Linked DNA regions of Homo sapiens. The protein of the gene in region 1 purifies or fractionates together with the protein of each later gene. This does not show direct contact. Each region holds a gene or a part of one and is shown in the gene's direction. Other genes may lie near its edges.

Region 1 (2,539 bases):
AAGAAAATATGATTTAAGAGGCATTAGGAAGGCATCTTTGTCCTAAACACTATATGACAGCTGATGCCTGAAACCCTCCTAATTGGAGTCTCTAATTAAACTCCGCTAATTACAGTGGGAGTCTCAAACAAGTGTGTAAAGGCTGGTGACTCCACCCCCAGAATTTCTGATTCAGTAGATGTGGAGTGAGACTTGAGAATTTTCATCTCTAACAGCCGTCCAGTTGATGTTCTGGGAACTACACATTGAGAACCACTACTATAGTTTAAGGCTTTATTAATTAAAATGGAAAGAAATTTCCCTGGTAGCTGGCAACTCCTTGGGACTTACAGGCAATCGTCAGGTAGAATACTCTCTCCTTTCCTGAAAAGAGCTTTTCATAAGGGAGTGAGAGATGAATTCAAAGTTTTTGGAGGCAGAGGCATCATCAAGAGAAGAAGTGATTATAGAAAGCAGATGTTGGACACATTAGAGACAAACTTGGCTTCTTCACAATTATGCATGAGACTAGGCTGGACTTGGTGTAAAAATAGGTCCAGCCACAGGGGTACGATACCTAGCCTGGCATTTATCTATGCATCTTCAAACTCAGAGTAGACCCTTTAAAAATAACTCTGGGGAGATTTCTCCAGGACAACCTAAGAAAATGCATTCCAAAAGTAATATTCAGTCAGGATAGTTTGTAAGAGAATAACAAAGATAATTTGTCAAAAGGTTGTGCTGCCTGGGTATTACTCACTAAAGCTTTTTAAGCAAATAATCACATAAACATATCATTTATAGGAACAGACTATTTTTCCACTGGGAACTGCTCAGTTATTTAAGAATTTTTGTTTTTTTGGTGGGGGGAGTTAAATAACAGTGTACTTGAGTCTACAATCCAGGAATTAAATGGCAGCCTGCCATCATAGCGGTTATTTTTCCATGGTGATGAAATGTATTGTTTAATCCTGTAGTCAAAAACAAAAGATGCAACAGAAAAAAAATGTTAAGAGATGAATCTGTTTAGCTGAATCAAATAGAACAACAACAATATTGACCTAAATACATAATTTTTCCTGACGAGTGTTCTGTGCTTCTACAGGTATATTACAGGTACATTCCTTAAAAGCCCCACGGACAATTGATGTGGGAAGTAAACTTCAAGTGACTCCACATAGAGCCCTTGCTTACAAATTATGCATTTCATCCTGAGCATTTGTGAATTAGGGTGTTTAGGAGTGAGGCAGCAGTATTTAAAACACAGTTGAGAAGTATAAGACTTTAGCTTATGGAGTATTATGTGTGTAGTATAGACCCACATTTTAGAGTTTTATCAAAGTGTTTTCTCATAGGTTTCTAATTTTCTATCGTTCTCAAATCTGAGTGTGCATCAGAATCACCTGGAGATCTTATAAACCCAGGTTGCTGTTTCCTACCCCCAGAATTTCTGACTTGCTGGGTCAGAGGTTGGGCCTCACAGTTTACTCCCCAGGTATTAATAGTATTGATGTTGCTGGCTCACGATTTGAGAACTACTATTTAATCCTTGCGAGAAACTTGTGTGATATTATTAGGAATTTCTGAAAGAGAGAAACTGAAGATCAGCTAGGGGAGGATATTTGCCCAAGGACAAAGGGTAAATGCAATAGCCAGAACCTGAGTCTGAAGTGTTTTTTTCACTCATACAGTATAATAACAATACTTTCCTTCATTGTCATGAATACAAATTTTTAAAAAATTCTATCAGTAGAAAAGCAACAAAGAGAAATCTAGTTATTTACTTTTTAATGTAGATATCAAATTTTGTCATTTCAATATTTAAGAAAATAAATATAAGAGTTTCCCTGGAGAGAATATTGATATAATAATATCACACTGTGTCAAAACTGTTTAAGTACTTGCTTCTTCTAGCCACATCATCTACTCTAGTTGTAACAAAGTGGTCTCTAAGAAACATATCTCCTCTATGAAAAGACATCAAAATTTATGAGACAGTGAACTTGTCTTAAGCAATATGATGGAAATATTTATTTTTCTGAAAACTTTCAGGGATTTAAGATTAGGTAAAAATGTTATTTACTCAACTACATTACTTTCTGGTGTTCCCTGAGAAACACTGTAATTTATGAAAATGTAATTAAATTTAGAATACTTCTTTTTTATATTCATTTATTCAGACATACATTGATTATGGGACATGAGCTTGATGAGGATAAGGGGATTGCACATCGAAAGGGACATATTCTTTTGGGCAAGAGACACATTGTAGAATTAGAAAGAATCGGCCAGGTCTCAGCTCTGCCACTTACTTTCTGAAATAAGTTGTGTGCATTTCCTTATTTCTCTGAACCAGAATTCCCACAAAATGCCCAGGTATGTAGAATAATAATATTGGCTGATAAAGCCTGTGAGATGATCAGGTGATACTTGGATGTATGTAAAAAAAGAGAACCTGATTTTATAACAACTAAACTGCTATTCAAATGAGTCATTATTTTTATTAAATTCAGTTTACAAAATGGCATAAATTCAAAGCAAAGCAACCTTGCTGGAAACA
Region 2 (3,343 bases), on another chromosome or scaffold:
TCTATCGTTGTTGGACATTTGGGTTGGTTCCAAGTCTTTGCTATTGTGAATAGTCCCGCAATAAACATACGTGTGCATGTGTCTTTATAGCAGCATGATTTATAGTCCTTTGGTTATATACCCAGTAATGGGATGGCTGGGTCAAATGGTATTTCTAGTTCTAGATCCTTGAGGAATCGCCACACTGACTTCCACAATGGTTGAACTAGTTTACAGTCCCACCAACAGTGTAAAAGTGTTCCTATTTCTCCACATCCTCTCCAGCACCTGTTTCCTGACTTTTTAATGATTGCCATTCTAACTAGTGTGAGGTGGTATCTCATTGTGGTTTTGATTTGCATTTCTCTGATGGCCAGTGATGGTGAGTATTTTTTCATGTGTTTTTTGGCTGCATAAATGTCTTCTTTTGAGAAGTGTCTGTTCATGTCCTTTGCCCACTTTTTGATGGGGTTGTTTGTTTGTTTCTTGTAAATTTGTTTGAGTTCATTGTGGATTCTGGATATTAGCTCTTTGTCAGATGAGTAGGTTGCGAAAATTTTCTCCCATTTTGTAGGTTGCCTGTTCACTCTGATGGTAGTTTCTTTTGATGTGCAGAAGCTCTTTAGTTTAATTAGATCCTATTTGTCAATTTTGGCTTTTGTTGCCATTACTTTTGGGGTTTTAGACATGAAGTCCTTGCCCATGCCTATGTCCTGAATGGTAATGCCTAGGTTTTCTTCTAGGGTTTTTATGGTTTTAGGTCTAACGTTTAAGTCTTTAATCCATCTTGAATTAATTTTTGTATAAGGTGTAAGGAAGGGGTCCAGTTTCAGCTTTCTACATATGGCTAGCCAGTTTTCCCAGCACCATTTATTAAATAGGGAATCCTTTCCCCATTGCTTGTTTTTCTCAGGTTTGTCAAAGATCAGATGTAGATATGCAGCATTATTTCTGAGGGCTCTGTTCTGTTCCATTGATCTATATCTCTGTTTTGGTACCAGTACCATGCTGTTTTGGTTACTGTAGCCTTGTAGTATGGTTTGAAGTCAGGTAGCGTGATGCCTCCAGCTTTGTTCTTTTGGCTTAGGATTGACTTGGCAATGCAGGCTCTTTTTTGGTTCCATATGAACTTTAAAGTAGTTTTTTCCAATTCTGTGAAGAAAGTCATTGGTAGCTTGATGGGGATGGCATTGAATCTATAAATTACCTTGGGCAGTATGGCCATTTTCACGATACTGATTCTTCCTACCCATGAGCGTGGAATGTTCTTCCATTTGTTTGTATCCTCTTTTATTTCATTGAGCAGTGGTTTGTAGTTCTCCTTGAAGAGGTCCTAAACGTCCCTTGTAAGTTGGATTCCTAAGTATTTTATTCTCTTTGAAGCAATTGTGAATGGAAGTTCACTCATGATTTGGCTCTCTGTTTGTCTGTTATTGGTGTATAAGAATGCTGGTGATTTTTGTACATTGATTTTGTATCCTGAGACTTTGCTGAAGTTGCTTATCAGCTTAAGGAGATTTTGGGCTGAGACAATGGGGTTTTCTAGATATACAATCATGTCATCTGCAAACAGGGACAATTTGACTTCCTCTTTTCCTAATTGAATACCCTTTATTTCCTTCTCCTGCCTAATTGCCCTGGCCAGAACTTCCAACACTATGTTGAATAGGAGTGGTGAGAGAGGGCATCCCTGTCTTGTAGCACATAATTTTCAACAACTTCTCCAAAATTTGAAGGTAGTGTTTCCCCAAAATTTTTAAAGACACCAGCCATCTTAATGTTTCAGTGTTCTATTGTTTGTAATCAACCTTTCTTCAGAACTACTTAAAAGGATTGACACTGATAGTATAAGTTTGTAGTGTCCAGTGATGAAGTTTGTTTTAGAGATATTGTTTCCATTGCAATACTTGAAACTTTTTTTTTCTTTGTTTTTTGAGACAGTCTCTCACTCTGTCACCCAGGCTGGATCTCGGCTCACTGCAACGTCTACCTCCAGGGTTCAAGCGATTCTCCTGCCTCAGCCTCCCAAGTAGCTGGGACTACAGACATGCACCACCACACCCGGCTAATTTTTTTTGTATTTTTAGTAGTGACGGGGTTTTACTGTGTTGGCCAGACTGGTCTCGAACTCCTGACCTCAGTTGATCTGCCCACCTTGGACTCCCAAAGTGCTGGGATTACAGGCATGAGCCACTGCACCCAACTGAGACTTTTTATTAGCCAGCTATATCAGCCTTCTTTCCTTCTGAGCATTAACAAAATATTTAGAATCCTGAACTTTTCTGTATCCTTCCCTGGTGGTAGGAACTGGGGTCCTACTGATGACTTATGAAAATGAGGAGACTGACAGTGATCTCAAAAGTACATATAGATAAAGATTAGACCTCCTTACAATAAACTCTTTTTGGTTCACTGAAATTTTGTTCCTTTGAAATATTGCTCAGAAAGAATACACTTATTAGATGGGGCTTGGGACCTTGGATCACACAGAGCTTTCTTTTTATTGGGATGACATTTGACCTGTCTTTAGGTTTAGGGAGAAAAGCAGAGTGGTGAAAGTAGTTAATGACTGAGAATCTTAGTTGTTCCACAAGGGTACAAAGCAGAGTTTTAACATTAATTTGGCAGTTTAAAAATCCCCAACCAGGCGGCCGCGGTGGTTCACGCCTGTAATCCCAGCACTTTGGGAGGCCGAGGCGGGCGGATCACGAGGTCAGGAGTTCGAGACTAGCCTGGCCAACATTGTGAAACCCCGTCTCTACTAAAAATACAAAAACAATTAGCCAGGTATCGTGGCGGGCACCTGTAATCCCAGCTACTCTGGAGGCTGAGGCAGGAGAATTGCTTGAAACTGGAAGGCAGAGGTTGCCCTGAGCCGTGATCGTACCACGGCACTCCAGCCTGGGCAAAAAGAGCGAAACTCCATCTCCAAAAAACAAAAACAAAAACAAAAAAAATCCCCAACCAGCTGAGAGACTTGAATGTCTCAAGGAATTAGGATCTCACAGTTCTCCGTTACTGGCAACAGCCAGACTTAAGTCATTTTGGATTAGCTGTTATACAGTGTTAAAAACTGTGCAACTCTAGAATTGAAGTATAATTATTTTATTAAATTATTTGCTAATAACCAGCCAGTTTTTTGTATCGTAAGGACAGTTACAACCAAATATCTCTGAGTAGCAAAATATAATTTTAGGGCCTAGTGTTATACGTCAGGCCTAACCTCTACTGTGCAAAGATCATAAATTGAAGCTAGATAACAATATGAAGCCAAAAAGCTATTCAAGCTAACCACCAAAAAAGAATAGTGCTGCTTCAAGTTATAAACCTCAGTGACCATTTAAGTGAGGTCCCATAATGCCAT
Region 3 (3,522 bases), on another chromosome or scaffold:
GCAGAGGAGAACTGTAGAGGTGGAGTTTTTCTAAGAATACAGACTTGAGCTGTCATCCAGTATGTCTTTTCAGATGGAGCAAAAACAGGTGGTACCTCCCTTTAAACCAAATATTTCTGGGGAATTTGGTTTGGACAACTTTGATTCTCAGTTTACTAATGAACCTGTCCAGCTCACTCCAGATGACGAGTAAGTAATTCTGTACACTGAAATTTTTTTTTAAGTTCTTTGGAAATCCCATTTTTAGTGACTATGCAATGTTTCATTATCAGATTATACTATAATTTTTTTATTTTCTATTTTATTTCATTTTATTTTATTTTGAGATGGAGTCTCGCTCTGTTGCCCAGGCTGGAGTGCAGTGGTGCAATCTCGGCTCACTGCAACCTCTGCCTCCCAGGTTCAAATGATTCTCCTGCCTCAGATACCCTGAGTAGCTGGTACTACAGGCGCGTGCCGCCACGCCCAGCTAATTTTTGTATTTTTAGTAAGGACAGAGTTTGCCATGTTGGCCAGGCTGATCTTGAACTCCAGACCTCAGGTGATCCACCCACCTTGGCCTCTTAAAGTGCTGGGATTACAGGCGTGAGCCACTGTGCCCGGCCTATACTATAATTTATACAACCATTCAGTTACTGGTATTTGTATCTACTGTACCATTATAAGTTTTAATAGTAACTGTCATTTTCTCCTTTGCTTTATAGTGCATTATCTTATTTTCACAACAACTTTGTAATCTAGTTACTGTCATCTTCGTTTTACAGATGAGGAAACCAAGGCTCAGAGAGGTTAAGCAAAGTTACACAGCTATCAGGTGGCAGAGTCAGGATTCAAACCCAAATCTGACTGACTAAGGCCTGTGCTCTTTCTACCACGCTGCACTGTTTCCCATTTGACAAGGACTGTCTTTGAGTTCCTGAGTATTGCCTTAAGATAGATTCCTAGAAAGAGAATTAGGTCAGAGGGTATTAACATTTTAAAGCTCTTGTATTGCCAAATTGCTTTTTTTAAGAAATTACATTGAGTTATTAAATCCAGCCATCAGTGATCTGGTATATTTTTTGTGCTTATACTTCATCTTTTAAACATGTAGTTTGGAATAATTGGGAGATATTTTGATTATTTACCTGTTGTTACAGATTCATTCTCTCTAATCTCAGGGAGGCCCTTATTGTTTGGCAGTCATTTCACTTCTATCTCATTTCTTACCACATTTCTCCCAGCACCTGCTCCAAACAGTCTCTTCATTTCAGAAGCCTTCAGTTCTACTCCTTTTTCCATCACTGTTAATGGATTAACCTTGTCTTAATTTGATGCAAGGACTGATAACCTCTCTGACGTGACCTTGCCTCCTTTGCAGCTGTCCCCAGACCACCTTGCATCTCAGAATTGCTTTCTAACTCTTTTCATCATTTTCTTATTCCCTACTCTTGGAAGACTCTCCTTTACAAGGGGTGTCCCTGCTATTTTCCTAGACCTGTTTCCTTAGTTTTCTCCAAGATTTCATTTTGTCAGTTATCTTTTTATTAGACCTTCTTTATTTTTTTCTAGCTTGTTTCCCTCTGTGTAAGCATGCTCAGATACTCTGATTTTTCCCCCTAACTCATGGCCCCTCTTTGAACAACCACGTTTTTCCTCATTTTCATTTCATCTTAAAGCCTCAAAAAAAAAAAAGTTAATAGATGTTCATGGTCAAAGAAAAATAAATACACAGCACCTCTAATCAAACTTCTTCAGACTAGTCAACATTGATTGTCTTGAATTTTTTTTTTTTTTTTTTTTACTGTCAACACTTCAACCCCTTACAATCGAACCTGTCCTCCAGCTTTTGAAGGTTGAATCAATTTCTTAATTTCTAAATTGTAAAGCATTTTGGGGTCAGTCCTCCTCTCCCTTGATTAATGTAAAGCATTTGGTACTCATGGCTTTGCCTTGGGTAGCACTGCCTATTCTGGTTCTGTTTCATCTCTGTGACTACTTTCCTCTCATGTGTTTTCCCTGTCCCCTTGAGACCAGGATGCTCCATGGTTCTGTTCATGACAGCCTTCTTTTTGCTATATGCAGTTTGTACCTTGGAGATTTCAGCCAGCCCTGTAGCATAGATACCAGCTAATTAAATGGCTCTCAGTTAAATGGCAAATGGTTATTGAGCAAAAGGTGTTATGGTAAATACTAGACATTCAAAGACAATCAAGACAGTCTGATCTCCCCAAAAGCGTGCTGTCTACTAGAGGAGAAAGATGTGTACCAAGTCATTATTTCTGACAGCATTGTGTATTAGAAGGAACACTGGATTTAATCAAAAGATAGGAGTTTGAATCCCGATGCCACCTCTTACCAACTGGGTAACCTTGGATAGGAATTGCATAACTTCTCTGAGCCTGTTCTCAAATTGCCTACCTCATAAGGTTGCTGTGAAGAATAAATGCATGATGGTTTCTGAAGCACTTATCCCCTGCCGTTAGATCTCCTGAGCTGCATTTCTGTTTAACACGGCCCCCAGTTTGTCAGCCAAGCAGCTCAAATATATGAAGTCTAAAATGAAAGTAATGACCCTTTATGATCTCTTTCTATTGTTCTCAATCAGTTCCTTTTTTTTTAGTTACCTAATTCTGCTCACGGTGTGTCCCTGTTGTTCAGATTCCAGATGTCAGTGATTGTGGACTCCTCCTTTTTCTTAACAGATTACATAATACCTGCAGCTGCCAAGTCTTTGTCTGTGTTTTCATTATTTCATCATTTACATCAGATCTTTCTTTTCTCTTCCCGTTGACACACCCTAGTTCAGGCCTCATTCAAGTCATACCCAGAGTATTGTATCAGCCTCCTAATTGATCTTTACTCCTTCACTTTGCAACCTATTCTGTATGCCTTGTGAAGTACCACTCCAATTCTTGAACCCCTTTAATTAGAAACCTTCAGTAACTCCTTCATTGCCTATCAGGTAACATCTATCCTCTTGGCTAGCATTTAAGGCCTCCCCACATCTGCTCCAGCCTGACTTTCTAGCGATACCTCTCACCATAATACAAACAGTGTTCTGATCAGTCTTAGCTACTCACCATTCCCTAGTAGTATTATTGTCTCTGCTTCTGCCTGTTCATTCCTGTGTATCCCGCCTTCATTTTTACCTATTGAAATTTTCCCATCTTTCAGAGCCACCTCAGATGCAACCAGATCTTTGATGGATCAAGGTGAAACTCCTTAGTGTAAACATCACTGGCCTCTTTGATTTAGCCATTATTTTTCTTCAGCATCATCTAACACACTTCTATTCCTGTGCTCCACCCTAATTACTTGCATTTCCCAAGACCTACCACAGTCTTTCATCATTCCATTCATTAAGTGTTTGCAGAATGAATACTGCCTTCCTTGATTTCTCCAACTAGAAGTCACACCTTTCTTTAGAACCATGGTTAGAACAGGACTTAGCTTATTGTGTATAAAATTTAACAAGTACTGCTTTCTCTTCCAGTAGGAATTACCTCCCTTCCTTGAAGGAAGGGACTGTATCCTCTGTAA
Region 4 (3,522 bases), on another chromosome or scaffold:
TCCTGGAGGAGGCTGGTCTCAAGCTGGGCGGTGGAAGGGGGTGTCTCATAACAAGAGAGAACTGTGAACCAAGCTGGCTGTATTTCCAGCACTGTCAGTAGATGAGGCTCTTTTGAGCAGAAGGTGAAAGAAAATTTGGAAGAGTTGGTTGGAGTTGTGTAGCCAAGCAGTCTCATCAGGCTGAATGAAATGTTAGGACTTTTTTTGAAGATGAGGGGAGCCATTGAATGCTTTTGAGCTGAGAAGGAGATAGAAAATTTGATCCTGCAATAGAAGATCTACAATATGGATTGGAGTGGGTATATTTTGGCATCATAGAGCCTTAGAATAAAGAGAAAAATCTTTTCACTGTGTCTTCCCTCCTGTTTGCCCCTTTTTCTGCAGGGGATGTGGTCCTGTCTGGCTGTAGCACCCTGAGCCTGCTGACTCCCACACTGCAACAGCTGAACCACGTATTTGAGCTGCACCTGGGGCCATGGGGCCCTGGCCAGACAGGCTTTGTGGCTCTGCCCTCCCATCCTGCCGACTCCCCTGTTATTCTTCAGCTTCAGTTTCTCTTCGATGTGCTGCAGAAAACACTTTCACTCAAGGTTCTGGGTGTGGGGAAGAGGCAGGATGTGCAAGGAGCCCAAGAGAATGATGGAAGTTGGGGATAGGGTAGGGGTGCAGAAGTCTGCAGTGCCAGGATCCAGAGGGTGTCAGAGGTACCAGTGGTTGTGCTAAGGAAGGAATGTTGAGGGCAGGAAGATCTGCTGTGCCTCAGTAAATTGAGTTTTTTTTTTTTTTTCAGCTGGTCCATGTTGCTGGTCCTGGCCCCACAGGGCCCATCAAGATTTTCCCCTTCAAATCCCTTCGGCACCTGGAGGTATGGGGACACGGGGGGATGTTGGTGCACAGCACCCAACTTGAGGCAGCCCCTTGGGGATGGGAAAGAGAAGAGCCTCTTTGGTGAGGAGGCCAGGCCTGAGTATACCCATTGCTCTGCAGTCATGTGATATCCACTGTCTTTCCATTTACTGCTTCCCTAAATCATAGCTGGGCTTTGTGGTCTTCTCCCTCCTCCCAACTAGGGGATGGGGATGAGGTCTTTGTCTTCTGTGGGGTTCTGCCTTCCTCCCTCCTCTTTCCTTGTCCCAGCTCCGAGGTGTTCCCCTCCACTGTCTGCATGGCCTCCGAGGCATCTACTCCCAGCTGGAGACCCTGATTTGCAGCAGGAGCCTCCAGGCATTAGAGGTAAGGAGAGTGAGGGGTGAGCTCAGACACCTCAACTTGAGAGATGTAGAAGACCAAGCTCTGATGTTCTCCCCTCTCTGCAGCTCTCCCTGCCTCCTGCTTCCCTCTAGACAGTGTCCTCACTCCCTCTCTGTGTTCCCGCAGCACTCTGTAACTGCCTGTATATTTATAGTCGTACCTACCATATTATATTACATATTCTAGTGTCTACCTTCCCACTGTCCCTACAGTGAGTTCTTGGGTCAGGGACCTGGGCTTTAAGCCTGTATCTTCAGATGGAGTTCAGTGTATAAAAAATGAATGAGTGACTGGGTGGTAGAGCTTGGCCTTGGCATAGGGAGGAAGGGGAGGGTGGGGTAATGAAGCACCCATCTGTCTGCTCAGGAGCTCCTCTCAGCCTGCGGCGGCGACTTCTGCTCTGCCCTCCCTTGGCTGGCTCTGCTTTCTGCCAACTTCAGCTACAATGCACTGACCGCCTTAGACAGCTCCCTGGTGAGTGCCTCAGAGGGAAGAGGGTTTCGAGGAAGGGCAAGGCCAGGCCTTTGGGGAGGAGGGCCAGCTGGTTGACCAGATAGTATTGTAGTGAACATCGATTCTCTGCCTCCTCCCCGTCTCTCTCAGCGCCTCTTGTCAGCTCTGCGTTTCTTGAACCTAAGCCACAATCAAGTCCAGGACTGTCAGGGATTCCTGATGGTGAGTATGGGCAGTTTGGCAGCTGGCACACCATGGGTCTTTGATTGCTCTGCTCTCACTCTCTCTCCTTGACCAGCTTTTACTCCCACCTTGCTCTTGCCATGAGGGTGGAGCTGCATTCTGGGAGATAGCACTGCTTAGACACTAGCATCAGACAAACCAGAGTTCATATCTCAACTTCTAATACCTGTGCAACTTTGAGCAAGTTAGTTACCTCTTGGTTTCTTTACCTGTAAAGTAGAAATCACAAGAGTACCTGGTTTTTTTTTTTTTTTTTTTTTTTGAGATGGAGTCTCGCTCTGTCACCCAGGCTGGAGTGCAGTGGCGCAATCTCAGCTCACTGCAACCTCTGCCTCCCAGGTTCAAGCAATTCTCCTGCTTCAGCCTCCCAAGTAGCTGGGATTACAGGCACGTGTCAACACACCTGGCTAATTTTTGTATTTTTAGTAGAGATGGGGTTTCACCATGTTGGTCAGGCTGGTCTTGAACTGCTGACCTCAAGCAATTCACCTGCCTTGGCCTCCCAAAATGCTGGGATTACAGGCATGAGCCACCACGCCCGGCTGAATACCTGCTTTTATAGTATTAAAATGATTGTGAAGAAGTACCCAATGTTGCTTAGTCTAGTGCCTAGCTCAGAAACTGGTAGCTTTTGTGATTATGATGAAGAACCTTTCTTCTGGGTCCTCCCATCCACCTGTCAGAGATAAAGCCGAACTAGTTAAAGTGGTAAGGACAGATTTTTTTTTTCTTTTTTTTTTTGAGGCAGAGTCTTGCTCTGTCACCCAGGCTAGAGTGCAGTGGTGTGATCTTGGCTCACTGCAAACTCAACCTCCTGGGTTCAAGCAGTTCTCCTGCCTCAGTCTCCCGAGTAGCTGGGATTACAGGTGCCCGCCACCATGCCCAGCTAATTTTTGTATTTTTTAGTAGAGATGGGGTTTCACCATCTTAGCCAGGCTGGTCTTGAACTCCTGACCTCATGATCCGCCCACCTCAGCCTCCCAAAATGCTGGGATTACAGGTGTGAGCCACCGTGCCCGACCAAGTAAGGACAGATTTTTTATCAGTGATAAACTATTGCAGCGGGGAAGAGGGTGCAACCTGAACTGAACGCCACTTCAATTTGTGCAGAGGTGGCTGGGCATTTTAAAAGGAGAGTGAGGGAATAGGAAGGGGAACTGTGAGGGCTTGAGCAGAGTAAGGGAAGTGGAAATGTACGAAAAGCAGAAGTGGAGGTTGATTCACATGAAGCCCTTCTGGGTTTGCTAAAAGTTAGGCTCCTACCTTCCCACAGAGACTGGGAGATGGGAGCCCTGTCATCAGGTGTTGGCTAGAACAAATGGGAAATTCTTTTGGCAGCCTTGACTTTTCCCAGGCAGGAGCTTAAGGGGGCTAGAGTCACCATTCTAGGGATGCATCCTTGAGATATTAGAACTTTGCTGTTTTTGTTCAGGTTTTTTACTGTGGGGGTTGGAGGAGTCAACAAAAATAATTTGTGTTGAATTTTGTTGAACTTGTGCTGAACAAGTCTGCAGTTCTTAACAGGCCAAAGTTGAGGCCTAGTCAAAAAGAAGGCCCAGAGGAGCCTGAGTAGGG
Region 5 (3,522 bases), on another chromosome or scaffold:
ATTATTCCACAAGTCTAAAAACAAATGTCTGCCTAATTATTTAGGTCATTCATAGATTTATCAAACAGTACCATCATCTGAGTAATCTTAGCTGTTTTTACCAGTTTCCTATACTGCCTTTAATATTACTACCATTAGTATCATTGTGGAGACTGTTCAGCATTGACCAGGACAGCTTGCTTGCTTGCTTTCTATCAGTTGTCAGTAAATAATTGAACGTCCGTGAAGTAAAGAGTAAAAGAACTAACTTGTTAATTGATAAAATTACAAAGCACTTTTATTACTCCAAATTACAGATCTTAAACTACAAGATCTATAAAATAAATACCACTTTGGAAATACGTACAAAGAGTTTGCATCATTCTTTGGGTAAATACATTCTTCCCCCCTTCCTCTCATTTTCAATTGTAGGTACTCGACCACCACTGATAAAAAATTTACCTAAGCCCATTGAGAGCCTGATGACTCGTTGTTGGTCTAAAGATCCTTCCCAGCGCCCTTCAATGGAGGAAATTGTGAAAATAATGACTCACTTGATGCGGGTATAATCCTTCTTTTGAGGGGCTTTGGATTTAGGGGAATTTAATATGTGCTGAGTTTTAATGGAATTTTAAAAGGGATGTTATTACTATATTCTGCTTTATATATTGCTATGTTTTCTAAGTGAGAATGGGCATTTATTACTCATAGTCAGAAGAGGAAACATTTCGAGAGGGAAAATCTAGTTCTTTATCACTGGAAAGATGGCTAGACTAGGTTTCTAGACTTGCTTTTTTCTTTTTGCTTACATTAGTGGACAAGTATGTTTGTCTCTGGGCCTGTTGCCTCATTTGTAATGTGGGAGAAACTGAAATAGATAGTCTCTAAAGCCATCACAGGACTTGGATATATTAATATTATGACTTCAATACATGATAAACTAAATTTTACATTTTTCTGATACCAATTTTCATCAAGCATTTAGTCATTTATGCAAGGCAATAGGTTGCATTCTCAGACACATTTATTTGAGTGACTTTTACTATTTGGCCTATTTTCAGGTTTTTATATCCCAGTAAAAAGTTAAACTTTCTTCTATTTAGAAGAACCCTTTTAAATGATTATCAAATTTTCCTAGTCTGTGAATCAAGCGCCTTTAGAATTATTTGGAATATTTTACGCCTCTGGTTTTTGGTACATTAACAAAAACTGTGAAGTGGTATCTTGGCTTTAAAAAGTTCAAATATCTATGAAAGTGCCTGAATTTTGAAACAGTTTGTTCAGTAGAAGAATCTTACAATCTCCTTAAATATAGACTAAGTAATTTCCTAAATGGTAAAACGTTGTTTATTCAATCTATTGAAAATTTCTTACGCAAAGCAGCTTGAACTAATCTACTAAAAGTTTACCATCGTATTTGGATACCAGTCATATATAGAAGCCTAGGCCTTAAAGGTGTGTGCATAAGAAAACAACTTAGTCTCTGTAGTCAGATTACTTAAAACTTTAGGATATATAAGTTATTGCAGTTGTAATTTTGCTTCTCTGTTCCTTGTCTAATTTGAGGAGAATACGTTTCCTTTTTTTCTCTAAATTCTAACATTTTTGTCCAGCAGATACTTTGAGTATTATGCCTCCAGTTTGTAGAAAGACATTCATAATCTATCCTCTTAATATTTAAAATGTTCTAACAATTATTCTATGGTATACTAGTCTCAGTCTTCAGACTAACAGTCACTGGAAGTTTACATCACTACTGTAAGAACATGAGTATGTTTTACATAATTATGAGAAATGATACTATTTTATTTCATATGTTTCTCTAGAGAAATATTTGCTGTTTTCTTCAAGACTATCTAGACTCCAATGTAAGCTAGATTCTTAGGTAGGTGCATGGCATTGATCAAAGTTGAAATCCAAGAGTACATTATTGTAATCTTTGTAAAATAAAAAACTTAGGCACCTACAAATTTAGTATATAACTTAGGGAAAATAAAACATTAATCAGGATTTAATTTGTATTAAGGAAATTTTAAGCTGTGGTTTACTTTTTTATATATAGTACTTTCCAGGAGCAGATGAGCCATTACAGTATCCTTGTCAGTATTCAGATGAAGGACAGAGCAACTCTGCCACCAGTACAGGTAAATGGATAGATTGGAAGAGTATTGACTTGATTTTTCTTTCATCTCTATTCCCATGAAATTATAATCAAGAAGTAATGAATAATGTCCCCATTTGCATTTTAATTCCTTCATTTCATATGATTGACTGCAATTTGAGTTTACAGGTGCGTCATTCTTCATGTAGGTACCCTGATTAAAGAGTTATTGAAGACCTGCTTCCAAGTCTTAGAATTCCTACATAATTATGAATAAAAAGATGGCATATTGTATTACAGTGAATGTCATTCTTAACTTGAAAAATCACTTTTACATGCATACTACTAGATCAAGTAGTATTAGAAATTATTGTAAATGTATTTAAACATTTCTTCATCACGAACACCCTAGTTTTTGTTCTCTTCTACAGAGGCTCTGATTTAAGAAGCTATGTTAAAAGTTCCTTAGTTTTCCGAAATGTGAAGTAGTAGTGGGACATGTAATTTGTGGTCATCAAAAAGATAGTAGAAATAATACTGTAACTTAGAAATATTGTACTTCTCAAAATATAGTGGCATTATAAGCATTTCATTATTAATTGAAACTTAAAGATATGTGTGTGTCTATATGCACATGTATTTACCCTGCATTTATTGAAAAATACTTTTACTGATCTATTTCTCCCACCTCAAGAATAGTTTTATTTATTTTAAGATGGTTACTGCTTGGCTAGTTATTCTCAAATTCCAGTTTTACTGAAAATATTTTGAGTTGCTCTGAATTCTAAAATGTACTTCTCTAAAATTCTATCATTTGTGTCTCCCACGTCCTCTAAACTCTCTCTTCATTTCCTTACTGTGACCTTGAATTTTTTGAGCCTCCCACCTTTTCACTGGTCCTCAGTCCTCTTAGGTCCTTTTTTCTTTCTCCCTCCACTTAATTCCAATCAACTATTATAATTCTTTTGGGAATAATTTTCATCTTTCTAGCCTCTCTCTCAAGCTTGCTTGGCTAAACCACAAGCCTAATGAAAGCTGACACTCGGCTTACTCCTTGCCTGTACCAATGCAGCTGAGTGTGGCTGGAGATAGCACAGGTTTACTATCCTCACGTGCATGTTTAGTGCTATTGGACAGTTGTACTGTATTGTAGTTCATCTCTTTCCTCCTATATGTCTTAATTTTATACTGTAGCCTCTCCTCAGACTTCAAACACCTCCTCGCCACTCCTCACTCTCAGCTGATCTTGTTTGCTCTTTCTCTGAGAAAATTGGAGTAATCGGAAGACAGCTTCCACAACATCTGTGCCCATCTACTCTGCTTTCTTCTGTTACTCTGGCTAAACTATCCATACTTCTGGCCAAAGGTGTACCTTTCTGCCTGTGCATTATATCCCATCTGCTCCTCTGAGCAATTCTCCCCTGTCTCTTGCATCATCAGTT

The links.
Region 2: the proteins of KERA (region 1) and UBR1 purify together in Homo sapiens (co-immunoprecipitation; one large-scale study listed by IntAct). This does not show direct contact.
Region 3: the proteins of KERA (region 1) and PRKCI purify together in Homo sapiens (affinity purification with mass spectrometry; 2 studies listed by BioGRID and IntAct, with this or other methods). This does not show direct contact.
Region 4: the proteins of KERA (region 1) and STK11IP purify together in Homo sapiens (affinity purification with mass spectrometry; 2 studies listed by BioGRID and IntAct, with this or other methods). This does not show direct contact.
Region 5: the proteins of KERA (region 1) and MAP3K7 purify together in Homo sapiens (affinity purification with mass spectrometry; 2 studies listed by BioGRID and IntAct, with this or other methods). This does not show direct contact.

Annotation. Positions count from the first base shown.
Region 1 is NC_000012.12:91,052,489-91,055,027, reverse strand, and holds part of KERA (keratocan precursor), read left to right. Parts: intron 1-2,539. UniProt on the Homo sapiens protein: May be important in developing and maintaining corneal transparency and for the structure of the stromal matrix.
Region 2 is NC_000015.10:42,945,707-42,949,049, reverse strand, and holds part of UBR1 (E3 ubiquitin-protein ligase UBR1), read left to right. Parts: intron 1-3,343. UniProt on the Homo sapiens protein: E3 ubiquitin-protein ligase which is a component of the N-end rule pathway. Recognizes and binds proteins bearing specific N-terminal residues that are destabilizing according to the N-end rule, leading to their ubiquitination and subsequent degradation.
Region 3 is NC_000003.12:170,298,922-170,302,443, forward strand, and holds part of PRKCI (protein kinase C iota type), read left to right. Parts: intron 1-73; coding exon 74-189; intron 190-3,522.
Region 4 is NC_000002.12:219,600,851-219,604,372, forward strand, and holds part of STK11IP (serine/threonine-protein kinase 11-interacting protein), read left to right. Parts: intron 1-384; coding exon 385-590; intron 591-790; coding exon 791-865; intron 866-1,137; coding exon 1,138-1,233; intron 1,234-1,617; coding exon 1,618-1,725; intron 1,726-1,854; coding exon 1,855-1,926; intron 1,927-3,522. UniProt on the Homo sapiens protein: May regulate STK11/LKB1 function by controlling its subcellular localization.
Region 5 is NC_000006.12:90,549,069-90,552,590, reverse strand, and holds part of MAP3K7 (mitogen-activated protein kinase kinase kinase 7), read left to right. Parts: intron 1-411; coding exon 412-542; intron 543-2,041; coding exon 2,042-2,123; intron 2,124-3,522. UniProt on the Homo sapiens protein: Serine/threonine kinase which acts as an essential component of the MAP kinase signal transduction pathway. Plays an important role in the cascades of cellular responses evoked by changes in the environment.